Homo sapiens: one gene and its partner. The protein of the gene in region 2 purifies or fractionates together with the protein of the main gene of each other region. This does not show direct contact. Each region holds a gene or a part of one and is shown on either strand. Other genes may lie near its edges.

The links.
Region 1: the proteins of WARS1 (region 2) and GTF2I fractionate together in Homo sapiens (co-fractionation; 2 studies listed by BioGRID). This does not show direct contact.

Annotation. Positions count from the first base shown.
Region 1 is NC_000007.14:74,730,640-74,737,918, forward strand, and holds part of GTF2I (general transcription factor II-I), read left to right. Parts: intron 1-1,839; coding exon 1,840-2,023; intron 2,024-3,283; coding exon 3,284-3,342; intron 3,343-4,821; coding exon 4,822-4,893; intron 4,894-5,860; coding exon 5,861-6,044; intron 6,045-7,279. UniProt on the Homo sapiens protein: Interacts with the basal transcription machinery by coordinating the formation of a multiprotein complex at the C-FOS promoter, and linking specific signal responsive activator complexes.
Region 2 is NC_000014.9:100,351,237-100,358,515, reverse strand, and holds part of WARS1 (tryptophan--tRNA ligase, cytoplasmic), read left to right. Parts: intron 1-3,949; coding exon 3,950-4,069; intron 4,070-4,646; coding exon 4,647-4,829; intron 4,830-7,279. UniProt on the Homo sapiens protein: Catalyzes the attachment of tryptophan to tRNA(Trp) in a two-step reaction: tryptophan is first activated by ATP to form Trp-AMP and then transferred to the acceptor end of the tRNA(Trp).

The DNA of each region.
Region 1 (7,279 bases), on a different chromosome or scaffold from region 2:
ACTGACAGTTTCTGTTAATCTACTTTGTTAAATCCAGTATTTGCTGAGATCCCCCTATTGTCTCTACTTTTATCTTTTTTTTTTTTTTTTTTTTTTTTTTTGAGACGGAGTCTCTGCATTGCAGTAGTACAATCTCGGCTCATTGCAACCTCCGCCTCCCGGGTTCAAGCAATTCTCCTGGCTCAGTCTCCCAAGCAGCTGGGACTACAGGTGCCCGCCACCATGCCCTGCTAATTTTTGTATTTTTAGTAGAGACAGGGTTTCACCATGTTGGCCAGGCTTGTCTCAAACTCCTGACCTCAAGTGATCCTCCCGCCTTGGCCTCCCAAAGTGCTAGCATTACAGGCGTGAGCCACCCTTCCCGGCCACTGCTTTTATCTTGATGTATAACTGAGTTGATGCTAGATTTCAATTCCTTCTTTGTCCTTTTACTATTCTGTCCTATAGCCACCTTTATATAATGATCAAAGAAATTCGCAATTTGTTATTATCATTTTTATTTTTTATAAAATATTTAAAATGATTTAAAATAAAAATCATTTTATTTTTATCATATTTATTATCATCTGTTATCATTTTTATTTGGATGACTATTTACTTTGCCATTAACTAGCAAGCGGTAAAATTGTATGATATGCAGTTTTAACTGAATTGCTATAAGTGAAAATTTAAATGCAATAAACCATATTGATGGTATTTGTGTTAACAAACTTAAAATGAGCATTTTTTCTTCATCATGAGTAATATAACCTACCCCTCAATGAAAATCTACAATTAGAGTAAATTTGCTAATGAATTCAGTAACTTTTCCATATTTTTAGTGGTTTACTTAAGGTTCTCTTAGTGTTTCTCCCAGTTTTTAATAGCTTACACCTTTTTTGCCCGTGGTTTTTTGTTTTTTGTTTTGTTGTTGTTTTTTTTTTTTTTGAGATAGAGTTTTGCTCTTGTTGCCTAGTCTGGAGTGGCACGATCTTGGCTCACTGTAACCTCTGCCTCCCAGGTTCAAGCAATTCTCCTGTCTGAGCCTCCTGAGTAGTTAAGATTACAGGTGCCCGCCACCATGCCCAGCTAATTTTTGTATTTTTAGTAGAGACAAGGTTTCACCATGTTGGCCAGGCTGGTCTTGAACTCCTAACCTCAGGTGATCCACCCACCTCGGCCTCCCAGAGTGCTGGGATTACAGGCGTGAGCCGCTGCGCCCGGCCTCATGTTTTCTATTGGTTCATTATGAAGCAAAAACTTCATAGCATGTGCTACCTGGAAGCACTGTAACCTAGTGGTAAGATCATAGGCTCTGGGGACACAGTGCCTTGCCACGTCTCTTCTCCTGTCTGAGTCTTAGTATCCTCTTTTGTGGTCATGAGAACTGAAGATCTATCCTGGAGATTGATAAGATAGTAAAGTGCTTCACGTAATACCTGGCATACATGTAATAAATGCTTCCTGTGTGTATATATATACACACATATACATATATATGTATATATACATATACACATATACATATATATATATATATACATAAACACATATACATATATATATAACACAGTGAAACCCCCGTCTCTACTAAAAATACAAAAAATTAGCTGGGCGTGGTGGCGGGCACCTGTAGTCCCAGCTACTCGGGAGGCTGAGGCAGGAGAATGGCGTGAGCCCGGGAGGCAGAGCTTGCAGTGAACCGAGATCACACCACTGCACTGCAGCCTGGGAGACACAGCAAGACTCCATCTCAAAAAAATAAAAAAAAAGTTAAAGAGCACTACAGATTCAATGATTTATTATTCTTTTCTACAAATTGTGTTTAAATGATATCTCTTTCTCTTTTTGTCCTTATAGCTCAAGCCATAAAAGCCAAAGGTCCGGTGACGATCCCGTACCCTCTTTTCCAGTCTCATGTTGAAGATCTTTATGTAGAAGGACTTCCTGAAGGAATTCCTTTTAGAAGGCCATCTACTTACGGAATTCCTCGCCTGGAGAGGATATTACTTGCAAAGGAAAGGATTCGTTTTGTGATTAAGAAGTAAGACTCTTGGATTCCTGTTGAACTCTTGTCTCTTTTCTGAGTAATACGTCTTTTTTATTGTTGACCAATATTCATTCACCACTAGGTTCTATGTGATGAAGTTTGAGTTATTTTATGTATTTTTATCTTGCACTTTTTAATTTATCTGGGTCCAGCATTGCATCAGTCATGCAGTGTTGGCATTCGAAGCATGAACAGTGCCCGCACTGGATTGGCATGCAACTCACATTTTCTTTCACAATTTTCTGCTACTTTTGCTAAAGAACATAGAATCCACGCCTTGTTTTTAGGCCTGATATATATATATATTTTTTTTTTCGAGATGGAGTCTCACACTGGAACCCAGGCTTGAGTGCAGTGTCGCAATCTCAGCTCACTGCAACCTCTGCCTTCCAGGTTCAAGCGATTCTCATGCCTCAGACTCCCGAGTAGCTGAGATTACAGGCGTGCGCCACCATGCCTGGCTAATTTTTGTATTTTTAGTAGAGACGGTGATTCACCATGTTGGCCAGGCTGGTCTTGAACTCCTGACCTCAGATGATCTGCCAACCTCGCCCTCATAGGCCTGAGATTTTTAAAGCATGCGTGGGAATATATGATTGTTTTTATAGATGTGCAGAGGAAGATAGTCTTGAATGCAATATGACATTAAAGGATCCCATTTAAGATTTTTGTAATATGCTTCAAAGACCTGTGGGTTGCAAAGTTACCTCTTTACTTGTGAGGATACATGCTCCATGAAGCACCTTATGAGACAACTTGCAATTATTAGTTTGCTTTTTACTCTGTAGAAACCTCAAATTAAGATTTAGTTGTGGGCTGGGTGTAGTGGCTCACACCTATAATCCCAGCACTTTGGGAGGCCAAGGCGGCTGGATCACCCGAGGTCAGGAGTTCGAGACAAGCCAGGCCAACAATGGTGAAACACTGTCTCTACTAAAAATACAAAAATTGACCAGGTGTGGTGGTGGGCGCCTGGAATCCCAGCTACTTGGGAGGCTGAGGCAGGAGGATTGCTTGAACCCGGGAGGTGGAGGTTGCAGTGAGTCGAGACTGCGCCATTGCACTCCAGCCTGGGAACAAGAGCAAAACTCCGTCTCAGGAAAAAAAAAAAAAAGATTTAGTTGTGCTCAAGCATCCAGATTATCTTTTCTTTTCAAAACCAGCCTTACTGACTAAATGTTAAATATGTACTAGTCGTTATTAGTTTGCTGAATATTACCTAGTGATTATTGAGTATTTATTCTCACCTTTCAGACATGAGCTTCTGAATTCAACACGTGAAGATTTACAGCTTGATAAGCCAGCTTCAGGAGGTAGGTCTTCAATCTCGAGGCAGATCAGAAGATTATGTGCAATAATTATTTCACGCTTAACATTGATTTCTTCTTTATGTTACCTTCCACATGAAATAATATGTCTCTAACTATTAATTATGTGCCATTACAGGAGAATTCATGTTGTCAAAATTCTAATAATTTCTAGAAGAATAAACGCATCTTCTTTTTATTAACCCATTGTAAATACTTATAAATATTGCATTTATGGGTAGACAGAAGTAAAAGAACAATATTTGTTCTACTTTTGATGCAAGATTTATCTGGCATAATGCATTGAACAGTTTATTATTGAAGTCTACACGAGTCAATGGAACAAGCATTCATTGAATGTCCATGATATGCAGGACATAAGAAGGTTTCCTTTTAGAGCATGGAGCCATTTATATCATCTCTTAATTGTTAGATGTATTTTGTTTTGTTTTGTTTTGTTTTTTGAGAGGGAATCTTGCTCTGTTGCCCAGGCTGGAGTGCAGTGGTGCGATCTCCGCTCACTGCAACCTCCCGCCTCCTGGGTTCAAGCAGTTCTCCTGCCTCAGCCTCCCTGTAGCTGGGATTACAGGTGCCTGCCACCATGCCCAGCTAATTTTTGTATTTTTCGTAGAGACAGGGTTTCACTATGTTGGCCAGGCTGATCTCAAACTGCTGACCTCAGGTGATCTGCCCACCTCGGCCTCCCAGAGTGCTAGGATTACAGGCATGAGCCACCGCGCCCAGCCTGTTAGATGTGTTTTAAAATAAATAGAAATATAATTGATTTTCTTGCTTGCTTTTGCTCTGGAGTGGAGTGGAGTGAGGATAAAACAGAATGGAATCACCCTGTTGATATTTACTAAGATAGAAGGACTGCAGCAAGATCATAGCCCTAATCTTCCTGTAGCAAGTGTTACCTGCTAGCTGTTCCTGAATACACTGAGTTTTGCTTTTTCCTAGCTCTAATGAATGTTTCGTTCTTCCTCTTTTTGTACAGTGTCAGCATTGTTTTAGAAATAAATACATTCTAGAATCTTAGGAATAATTTTATTATTGTCTTTTTTTTTTTTTGAGACGGAATCTCATTCTGTTGCCCAGGCTGGAGTGCAATGGCGCAATCTCAGCTCACTGCAACCGCTGCCTCCTGGGTTCAAGCGATTCTCCTGCCTCAGCCTCATGAGTAGCTGGGACTACAGGCGTGCGCCATCACGCCTGGCTAATTTTTGTATTTTTAGTAGAGATGGGGTTTCACCATGTTGGCCAGGCTGGTCTCAAACTCCTGACCTCAAGTGACCCGCCTGCCTCGGCTTCCCAAAGTGTTGGGATTACAGGTGTGAGCCATTGCACCTGGCCACGAATCTTAGAAATAATTTTGGCCATAGGAAAAGGAAAAGTTATACCTCTTATTTTATAGTAATAATGTTTAATAATCAAGTTATTAAACCCATTAAATTGAGAACACTTGTATTACTGTTATTTTGACAGTAAAGGAAGAATGGTATGCCAGAATCACTAAATTAAGAAAGATGGTGGATCAGCTTTTCTGCAAAAAATTTGGTAAGTCTGTTTTTTTTAATTACCCCTTCAACTAAAATGTATTACTGAGTAACATTTTTTTAAATGTTGTTTTATTTTAGGAAAGTAAATACAGTGAATAGGACTCAGCTTTAGTTTTCCCTGTTTTTTTTTTTTGGGTTTTTTTTTTTTTCTTGAGAAGGAGTCTTGCTCTGTTGCCCAGGCTGGAGTGCAGTGGTACGATCTCAGCTCACTGCAACCTCCTCCTCCCGGGTTCAAGCAATTCTCCTGCCTCAGCGTCCCAAGTAGCTGGGATTACAGGTGCCCGCCACCACGCCTGGCTAACTTTTGTATTTTTAGTAGAGATGGGGTTTCGCCATGTTGGCCAGGCTGGTCTCAAACTCCTGAATTCAGGTGATCCACCCGCCTCAGCCTCCTAAAGTGCTGGGATTATAGGCGTGAGCCACCGCGCCCGGCCCCCATTCTATGAATTATCTGTGGAAAGTTATTTCCTTTAAAATGGCATGCTCGTGAGGTTGAAGGGGTAAAGAACATTGATCTGGTTGCCACGCAGATGAAAGTGTAGTCGGAAATGTGTTACCAGTTTGCCATAGCCGATGGAGGAGGGTAATTACGGTCCTGAACAGTTAGTAGCAAAAGGCTGCTTCCAGATAGTATTTAGGTTGTGTCCTCTATTGTCCATGATGATTTTCTTTCTCTCTTTTCTTCCTAAGGATATTGAAAAACAAACTTTAATCTTTTAAAGATCTCAGAGCTATTAAGATTGTCTTAGGACCAGGACACTTAAATCTGCCCAAATCTGGCTGTTGATGATCGGTCATCTCTACTTGTCTTTGCTGTATTAAGTCTATTCAATAGTTAATAAATATGTTTCTAGAAAGAGTTTTTTTCAAGTAAAACAAAATTGACCTGTGCCTTTCTTTGGATTGTACTAAAATCTGATTTCAATACAAATGTAGTCTCCCGAATTGCTTTGATTTTTGTCCAGCGGAAGCCTTGGGGAGCACTGAAGCCAAGGCTGTACCGTACCAAAAATTTGAGGCACACCCGAATGATCTGTACGTGGAAGGACTGCCAGAAAACATTCCTTTCCGAAGTCCCTCATGGTATGGAATCCCAAGGCTGGAAAAAATCATTCAAGTGGGCAATCGAATTAAATTTGTTATTAAAAGGTAAGATGATAATCTGTAGAAATAGTTTCAGTGTCTTCCCTGAGAAGAGGTTAATTTGATGAAGAAGGGCCTTTTGTTTACCTTATGACTTATTTCTATTGACAATGAAGGCATTAATATTTAGATTCACTTAGTGAACAAATATTAGTATAAGCATCAGATGTGCAAAATTGGGTCTAACAAGAACACTGTCCTTGGGGCCTTCATACAAAGAAAAATGCACTGAAGGCCGGGCGCGGCAGCTCACGCCTGTAATCGCAGCACTTTGGGAGGCCAAGGCAGGTGGATCACTTGAGGTCAGGAGTTCAAGACTAGCCTGGCCAACATGATGAAGCCCCATCTCTAGTAAAAATACAAAAATTAGCTGGAAGCGGTGGTGCAAGCCTGTAGTCCCAGCTACTCGGGAGGCTGAGGTTGGAGAATCACTTGAACCCTAGAGGCGGAGGTTGCAGTGAGCCGAGATCGTGCCACTGCACTCCAGCCTGGGCAACAGAGCGAGACTCCATCTCAAAATAATTAAAAAAAAAAAATAGAAAAATGCAATGAAGTGTTATTGAGCGTTTTTAAGGGAGAAGGCAAGGATGGCACACCCAGCTCGGTCACTTGTGCATCCAGAAGAGATGGAAGGTGTTTCAAGTGAAGGAAATCATATGAGTAGGGGGAGGAGGTGGCAAATATGCCTGCGTATCCACAGAACTCACCCACCGTGTGTGGAGTGAGGACTGCCACGTGGGCGTGGTGGGGTTGCATGGATCGACTTGGGTGGGCAAGTGGAGGAAGGCCTGAGATCCTACGAACACAGAGGCAGTCACGAAGTGGTCTCGAGGCAGATGCCTCTGAAAATAATGTGGATCCGCCCTTTAGAAAGGTAATTCTGGCTTGATTTTGAAGGATAACACAATGGTTAGTTTGGGTGCGGGGTTAGGAACAGAAGGCCTCTCTCCACTCATTGACGGGATGTGGAAGGGTAAACCTTCCTTACTGATTGGGGTCATGCCTCTGTGTGTTTGTTGGGACTGAGTTATAAGGGATAGGAAACGTTTAAGATGCTACAGCGAGCTGCTTCTGGCTGTGCTGTGGGACAGTTCATGTAAGATTCAGAAACAGAATTGAGCTGGTTTGGGGGAAAAGTGACTTTCGCCTGTTTATCTTAAATATAGGATGATTTTGAAGGTCTCACCCGAATATCTGAAAATTGCCATTTTCAAAATAAACTCGTCACCAAAATGATTTTT
Region 2 (7,279 bases):
ATTTGTGAGGTACAGCTCCAACTTCATTCTTTTGCTTGTGGGTATCCAATTGTCCCAGCACTGTTTTTTGAAAAGACTATTCTTGGCTGGGCGCAGTGGCTCATGTCTGTAATCCCAGCACTTTGGGAGGCCAAGGCAGGCGGATCACGAGGTCAGGAGATTGAGACCATCCTGGCTAACACGGTGAAACCCCATCTCTACTAAAAATACAAAAAATTAGCCAGGTGTGGTGATGGGCGCCTGTAGTCCCAGCTACTCGGGAGGCTGAGGCAGGAGAATGGCATGAACCCGGGAGGCGGAGCTTGCAGTGAGCCGAGATCGCGCCACTGCACTCCAGCCTGGGTGGCAGTGAGACTCCGTCTCAAAAAAAAATAAGAAAATGTGAGTACTCAAACATGGTTCTTTTTCAAGATTGTTTAGGTATTCTGGGCCCCTTGCATTTCCATATGAATTTCAGCTTTTCCATTTCTGCAAAAGCAGCAGCTAGGATTTTGATAGGGATTGCACTGAATCTGTAGATTCATTTGTGGAGTATTGCCATCTTAAAATATTAATTCATCTAATCCATGAACATGGGATGTCTTTTCACTTCTTTGATTTCTTTCATTGATGTTTTGTAATTTTCAGTGTATAGGTTTTGCACTTCTTTGCTTAGATTTATTCATTAGAATTTTATCTTTTTAATGCTATTCTAAATGGCATTTTCTTAATCTCATTTTGATTGTTCATTGCTACTATATAGAAATACAACTGATGGCCGGGCACGGTGGCTTACACCTGTAATCCCAACACTTTGGGAGGCCGAGGCGGGTGGATCACTTGAGGTCAGGAGTTCGAGACCAGCCTGACCAACATGGTGAAACCACATCTCTACTAAAAATACAAAATTGGGCAGGCATGGTGGTGGGCGCCTGTAATCCCAGCTACCCAAGAGGCTAAGGCAGGAGAATCACTTGAACCCAGGAGGCAGAGGTGGCAGTGACCCGAGATCGTGCCATTGCACTCCAGCCCGGGCAAAAAGAGCAAAACTCCCTCTCAAAAAAAAAAAAAATACAATTGATGTTTGTGTATTAATCTTATATCCTGAAATTTTGCTGAGTTTATTAGCGCTAATGCTTTTTTTCTTTTTGCAGATTCGATAGGATTTCCTACATATAGGATTGTATCTCCTATGATTAGAGACAGTTTTACTTCCTCCTTTCCAATTTGGATTTTTTTTTCGTTCCTAATTTCTCTGACTTCAACTTTCAATAGGATGTTGAATAGTAGTGGTGAAAGTGAGCATCCTTGTCTTATTCCTGATCTTAGGGGAAAAACTTTCAGTAAAGACTGAATATACACCATTTAGTATAATGTTAGCTGTGGGCTTTCTATATACCCTTCAACATGTGTTTTTATTATGAAAAGATGTTAGATTTTATCAAATGCATTTTCTGTGTTTATTGAGATGATCATGTGGGTTTTGGCCTCTATTTTATTAGTATGGTGTATCACACTGATAGGTTTTTGCGTGTTTAATCAACCTTGCGTTCCTGGAACAAATTCCACTTAATCATGGTGTTGAAAATCAATTTATTTTCAATCATAGTGTATAATCTTTTTTATATGTTGCTGGATTTGGTTTGTGAGTTGCTGAGGATTTTTACATCTGTGTTCATAAGGGATATTGGTCTGTAGTTTTCTTTTAATGTCTTTGGTTTGGTATCAGGGTAATACTGGCCTCATAGAATGAGTTGGGAAGTATTTCTTATTCAATTTTTTTTGGAAAAGCTTGGGAAGGATTGGTATTAATTCTTTTTTGAACATTTGATAGACTTTACCAGTGAAAATGGGGTTTTGGGCTTTTCTTTGTAGGAAGTTTTTTGATTACTAATTCAGTCTTTTTGTTTGTTCCAGATCTGTGTATATTTTCTATTTCTTCTTGGGTTCGTTTCAGTAGTTTGTTTCTAGGAATTTGTCTATTTCATCAAGGTTATCTAATGTATTGGTATACAGTTATTCATAGTATTCCCTTATGTAGTAATCCTTTTTATTCCTATAAGGTCAGTAGTAATACCCCTTCTTATATTCCTGATTTTGGCCGTTTGAGTCTTCTCTTTTATTCCACACCCCCCCCCACACACACACACACACCCAGTCACTTTGGTTCAAAGTTTACTAATTTTGTTGGTTTGTAGTCAGCATTTTTTATCTTAGCATGGCATGGTTCTTCTCACTGCCTTTGTGACTTATTTATTAACTGCAGTATAGTAATACTGTAGCCTCTTGGCTTAGGAAAGCATAGGACCTGAGTCATTTGCCCATTCTCAAATTTCAAACTGCCCCTCTGTCTAATTTTGTCATCTGTAAAATTGGGGATTAAATGAGATCTACTATGCACAGTCAAGCTTCAAGTGGTGGGCAGGTAACTGGGTTCCCTTAGTAGCTGAATGAGTCTCTGCTGGAATCCATCCTCATAAAACATGATCTCAAAATTGGAACCCAGTAAATTTCTGCACGCTTGTCAGGAGCACCTCACCCCAGGACCGAGCACACAGTGAGTTCTCAGATGCTCCACATAAACACAAGAAAAGCAGCTCGTGGCACAGTTACATTTTTTTCTCTTCTGTAAGCCCATATGGTTAGTTGTGAGAACCAAAGAAGGATTCTTTCCTTCCAAAATTATGGGTTATTTTCTTTCCTTATTTCAAAAGCAGTATGTGAGCATTTCATGGGGAAAAAAAATGAAAACTAAGCCCAAAAACCAGAACACCCACAATTGTATCTGTCCAGAGATAAGCAATGTTGACCCTTGGCTTGGGGAATATAAGGAGAAGTCACTTTCAGAATACTGTTCTCTAGATTCTCCTATCCAGACCTCTGGAAAAGGTAGTTATTCCTCTTGTATTTGGGGACACTTTACCCAGAAACAAAGGACATTCATCCTCGAGCGTTGGTTTCCCACCCTGCTGAACATTGGAACTCCTCACGGAGCTTTTTAAAAATACAAATTCCCGGCCAGGCGCAGTGGCTCACACCTGTAATCCCAGCACTTTGGGAGGCCGAGGCAGGCAAATCACGAGGTCAGGAGTTTGAGACCAGCCTGGCCAACATGGTGAAACCCCGTCTCTATTAAAAACACAAAAAATTAGCTGGGCATAGTGGCAGGTGCCTACTATGCCCAGCTACTCGGGAGGCTGAGGCAGGAGAATCGCTTGAACCCAGGAGGCAGAGGTTGCAGTGAGCAGAGATCACACCACTGCACTCCAGCCTGGGTGACAGAGTGAGACTCTGTCTCAAAAATAAATAAATAAACAAACAAACAAACACATTCCCAGAGAGCACCTCAGATCCATTGAATCAGTCTCTGGAGGTGGGGCGCAGGCAGCTGTGATTGGAAGCAGCCTGGTAGGGAGGGGGATGACTCTTGAGTGACTTGCAGATGAAGATACCTAGTCCCAAGCTGGCTGAGGGGCCCAGATAGATCTCCAACTGGGCACTTGACCTCTGAACTCCCAGAGGACAATTCTTACTTTCCCTGCTAAGCCAGGACTGTCTGGTCCCATGCAGTTTGCCTGGTATTGGTCTGAGAGTCCTCGGGGCTGGGTGATTCTGAGCAAGGATCATATGGTGTTGGCCTGGTATCCCCAGGGAAGTGTACCAAGCTCACAGTATGTCGGCACTGATGTTTGGAGGGATTCCAGGAGTCCCAGTAACTGCATAGCTGGATCCATCTTTTAAACACATTATTCCAAACCTACACATCTTGTCTTTTAAAACACTCACAGGAGAAACCATTTCAGTAGAAGTTTCCTGTCTATATTTATATCATAAGCACCAAAGGTAACAAATTCTAGTTATTATCCATGTTGTTTCGTCTCTGTCTATATTTTCCATTTCCAAAAGTGCATTAGTGCCTTGATATTTTTCTCAGAAAATCACACTCTTCCTCTTCTCCTTTTTCCTTTAGAGATATGAATCAGGTTCTTGATGCCTATGAAAATAAGAAGCCATTTTATCTGTACACGGGCCGGGGCCCCTCTTCTGAAGCAATGCATGTAGGTCACCTCATTCCATTTATTTTCACAAAGTAAGTATTGGATCTTATGGCTTTTCTTACTCTCTTAGTGAATTGAGAATGTTGCTTATAAACCATGTTTAGAACTGACAAGATCATGCTAGTTCATTTGCTGAGCAACCAAGATGTCAAGAGTTGGCACTTTTTTGGCTTCCATTCACTTTGTTCCTGGGCTCACTTTAGAGGACCATGGAGTGATGGGGAGAGCGCAGCTTTGGAGTCAGCCAGGCCTGCTCCTCTTCTCATCCTGCTCCCTGTCTGCATGGCCATGGGCCTGCTACTTCTCTGAGCCTAAGTTTCCACATCTGCAAGATGAGAATGAAGATACCTACCTCATAGAACTACTGTAAAGCTTCAAAACAAAGTGTGTAGAGCAGCTAACACAGAGCACACAGGGCCACCTGGTCGATAAATGGTAGTAGACCTTATCATTATCCATAGTCAAATTCATATCACAATTCAAATTGTGATTTTGTAGGCAAGGAAGTTTTAACATACGTTGTAAGTAGGAGCTGTGTTTTCAGATGCACGATGGCGTTCCTCCACAGGGGAGATGAGACGTCAGCTTTCTCCCCCTGTGTTTCTTTAGGTGGCTCCAGGATGTATTTAACGTGCCCTTGGTCATCCAGATGACGGATGACGAGAAGTATCTGTGGAAGGACCTGACCCTGGACCAGGCCTATAGCTATGCTGTGGAGAATGCCAAGGACATCATCGCCTGTGGCTTTGACATCAACAAGACTTTCATATTCTCTGACCTGGACTACATGGGGTAAGGAGAAAACGTCTGGCTGCCTTTTCAATAGGTAGAGGAGGATGTCAAGTTGTCATGACCACAGCTAAATTCGAAACAACTGAAATGGTCTTAAGGCCTAGTAAATGTTCTTCTTCCTTTATTAAATGCTATGAGTGGCCAGCCATGGTGGCTCACACCTGTAATCCCAGCACTTTGGGAGGCCGAGGTGGGCGGGTCACGAGGTCAGGAGTTCAAGACCAGCCTGACCAACATGGTGAAACCCATCTCTATTGAAAATACAAAAATTAGTTGGGTGTGGTGGCACGCACCTATAAGCCCAGCTACTCAGGTGGCTGAAGCAGGAGAATCGCTTGAACCCGGGAGGTGGAGGTTACAGTGAGTTGAGATCACGCCATTGCACTCCAGCCTGGGCAACAGAGCGAGACTCCATCTCAAAAAGGAAAAAAAAATGCTATGAGCTGGTTTATTGGTTTTATTTACCAATAATTTTGAAAGTGAAAAGCTGTGTATGTACATAGAAAGGATTAAGTGATATCAGTATCTTAAAGACTCGATTATTGTCTCCATAATTACATTTACAGAAATTTAAAATATGGGCTCAGCCACAGCATGATGGCATCTCAGATCTTCATCCTCAGCTGTGCCAGGAAGTCCTGCCTTGCAGTTTCTTGCCAAGGATAGTCAGTCTTCCAGAGTTATGTCTTCCTCCTTTTCAACGCACCTTTTCCTCACAGAGAAAAGACTCAGTGGTTACACAGTTTCCTCAGTCTAGTTCTTTTAATCAGCCATTTAATAAACCAAAATATTTCATTCTGAAAATCCTTCAAGTTTCATCCCAAATGATTACCAAGAAATGTGTTAGAAAAATAAGACTTTGGTCAACCATCACAAGAAGGATACTATCTAGCTCAACAAATATTTCTTGAGCACCTGAGTTGTGGTACTCCCCTAAGGTGAGATACTCTTCTAAGTCATAGTACTCCCCTAAGGCGTGGTCTCTCCTAAGGCATGGTACTCCCCTAAGGCATGTTACTCCACTCCCCAAAGACGTGTTACTCCTCCCCTAAAGTGATTCCCCAGGAGGAGTGGGTTCATTGCTATGCTCCTGCAGCCCAGGCTGGGCTCTGAGCAGGCCCTCCCATGTTAGCTCACCATCAGGGACCATGCCGAGGCAGGATAAGAGGGACACTAAAGGGGCAGGTGAGCAGTGAGCACAGGAGGACTTGCTTAGAGCCGCATCCCCAGAACGTTCCCTCTTATAAGACCTTAAAACTGAGTAGTGGCAGCCAGGCGCGGTGGCTCATGCCTGTAATCCCAGCACTTTGGGAGGCTGAGGTGGGTGGATCACAAGGTCAGGAGGTCAGGAGTTCGAGACCAGCCTGGCCAATATGGTGAAACCCCATCTCTACTAAAAACACAAAAATTAGCCGGGTGTGGTGGCGTGCTCCTGTAGTTGCAGCTACTTGGGAGGCTGAGGCAGAAGAATCGCTTGAACCTGGGAGGCGGAGGTTGCAGTGAGCCGAGATCATGCCACTGCATTCCAGCCTGGGCAACAGAGTGAGACTCTGTCTCAAAAAAAAAAAAAAAAAAAAAGAAAGAAACTGAGTAGTGGTTTTATATCCATTGAGAGCAATGTATACCCTGATAGGAAATCTCGCCCTTCTATCAGCCAGTAAAACTGTTAGCTTTTTCTTTTTCTTTTTTTTTTTGAGACGGAGTCTCGCTCTGTCACCCAGGCTGGAGTGCAGTGGCACAATCTCGGCTCACTGCAAGCTCCGCCTCTCAGGTTCACACCATTCTCTTGCCTCAGCCTCCCAAGTAGCTGGGACTACAGGTGCCCGCCACCATGTCCGGCTAATTTTTTGTATTTTTAGTAGAGACGGGGTTTCACTGTGTTAGCCAGGATGGTCTCGATCTTCTGACCTCATGATCTGCCTGCCTCGGCCTCCCAAAGCACTGGGATTACAGGCATGAGCCACCACGCCCAGCACCTATTAGATCTTTTAAAATTACTTCTCTTGGTTCAGCCATGTGAGCATGGAGGCCCTGTGGCATCCTTGAAGGAAGGAAAATAGACAGGGATCCAGATCCTGGCACCTGGGTTTAGTGGCTGTGTGTCATAGCAGCCGTGTCCATGAAATGGGATCAAACAAGAACATAGATGTCATCATTAGCATAATTTTCTTTTTTTTTTTTTTTTTTGAGACAGAGTCTCACTCATGGGTTTTGCCATGTTGGCCAGGCTGGTCTTGAACTCCTGACCTCAAGTGATCCTCCCCGCCTCAGCCTCCCAAAGTGCTGCGATTACAGGTGTGAGCCACCATGCCCAGCCGTGTTAGTATAATTTTCATGGCACTTTATTTCCTTATTCTCACCCCATTCCATACAATGATTCAACTGATTGAACCTCTGCAGAGACAACTGTGGGTTCTGCTTCTCCTTTTCCAGTCAGGCAGTGCTGCTGG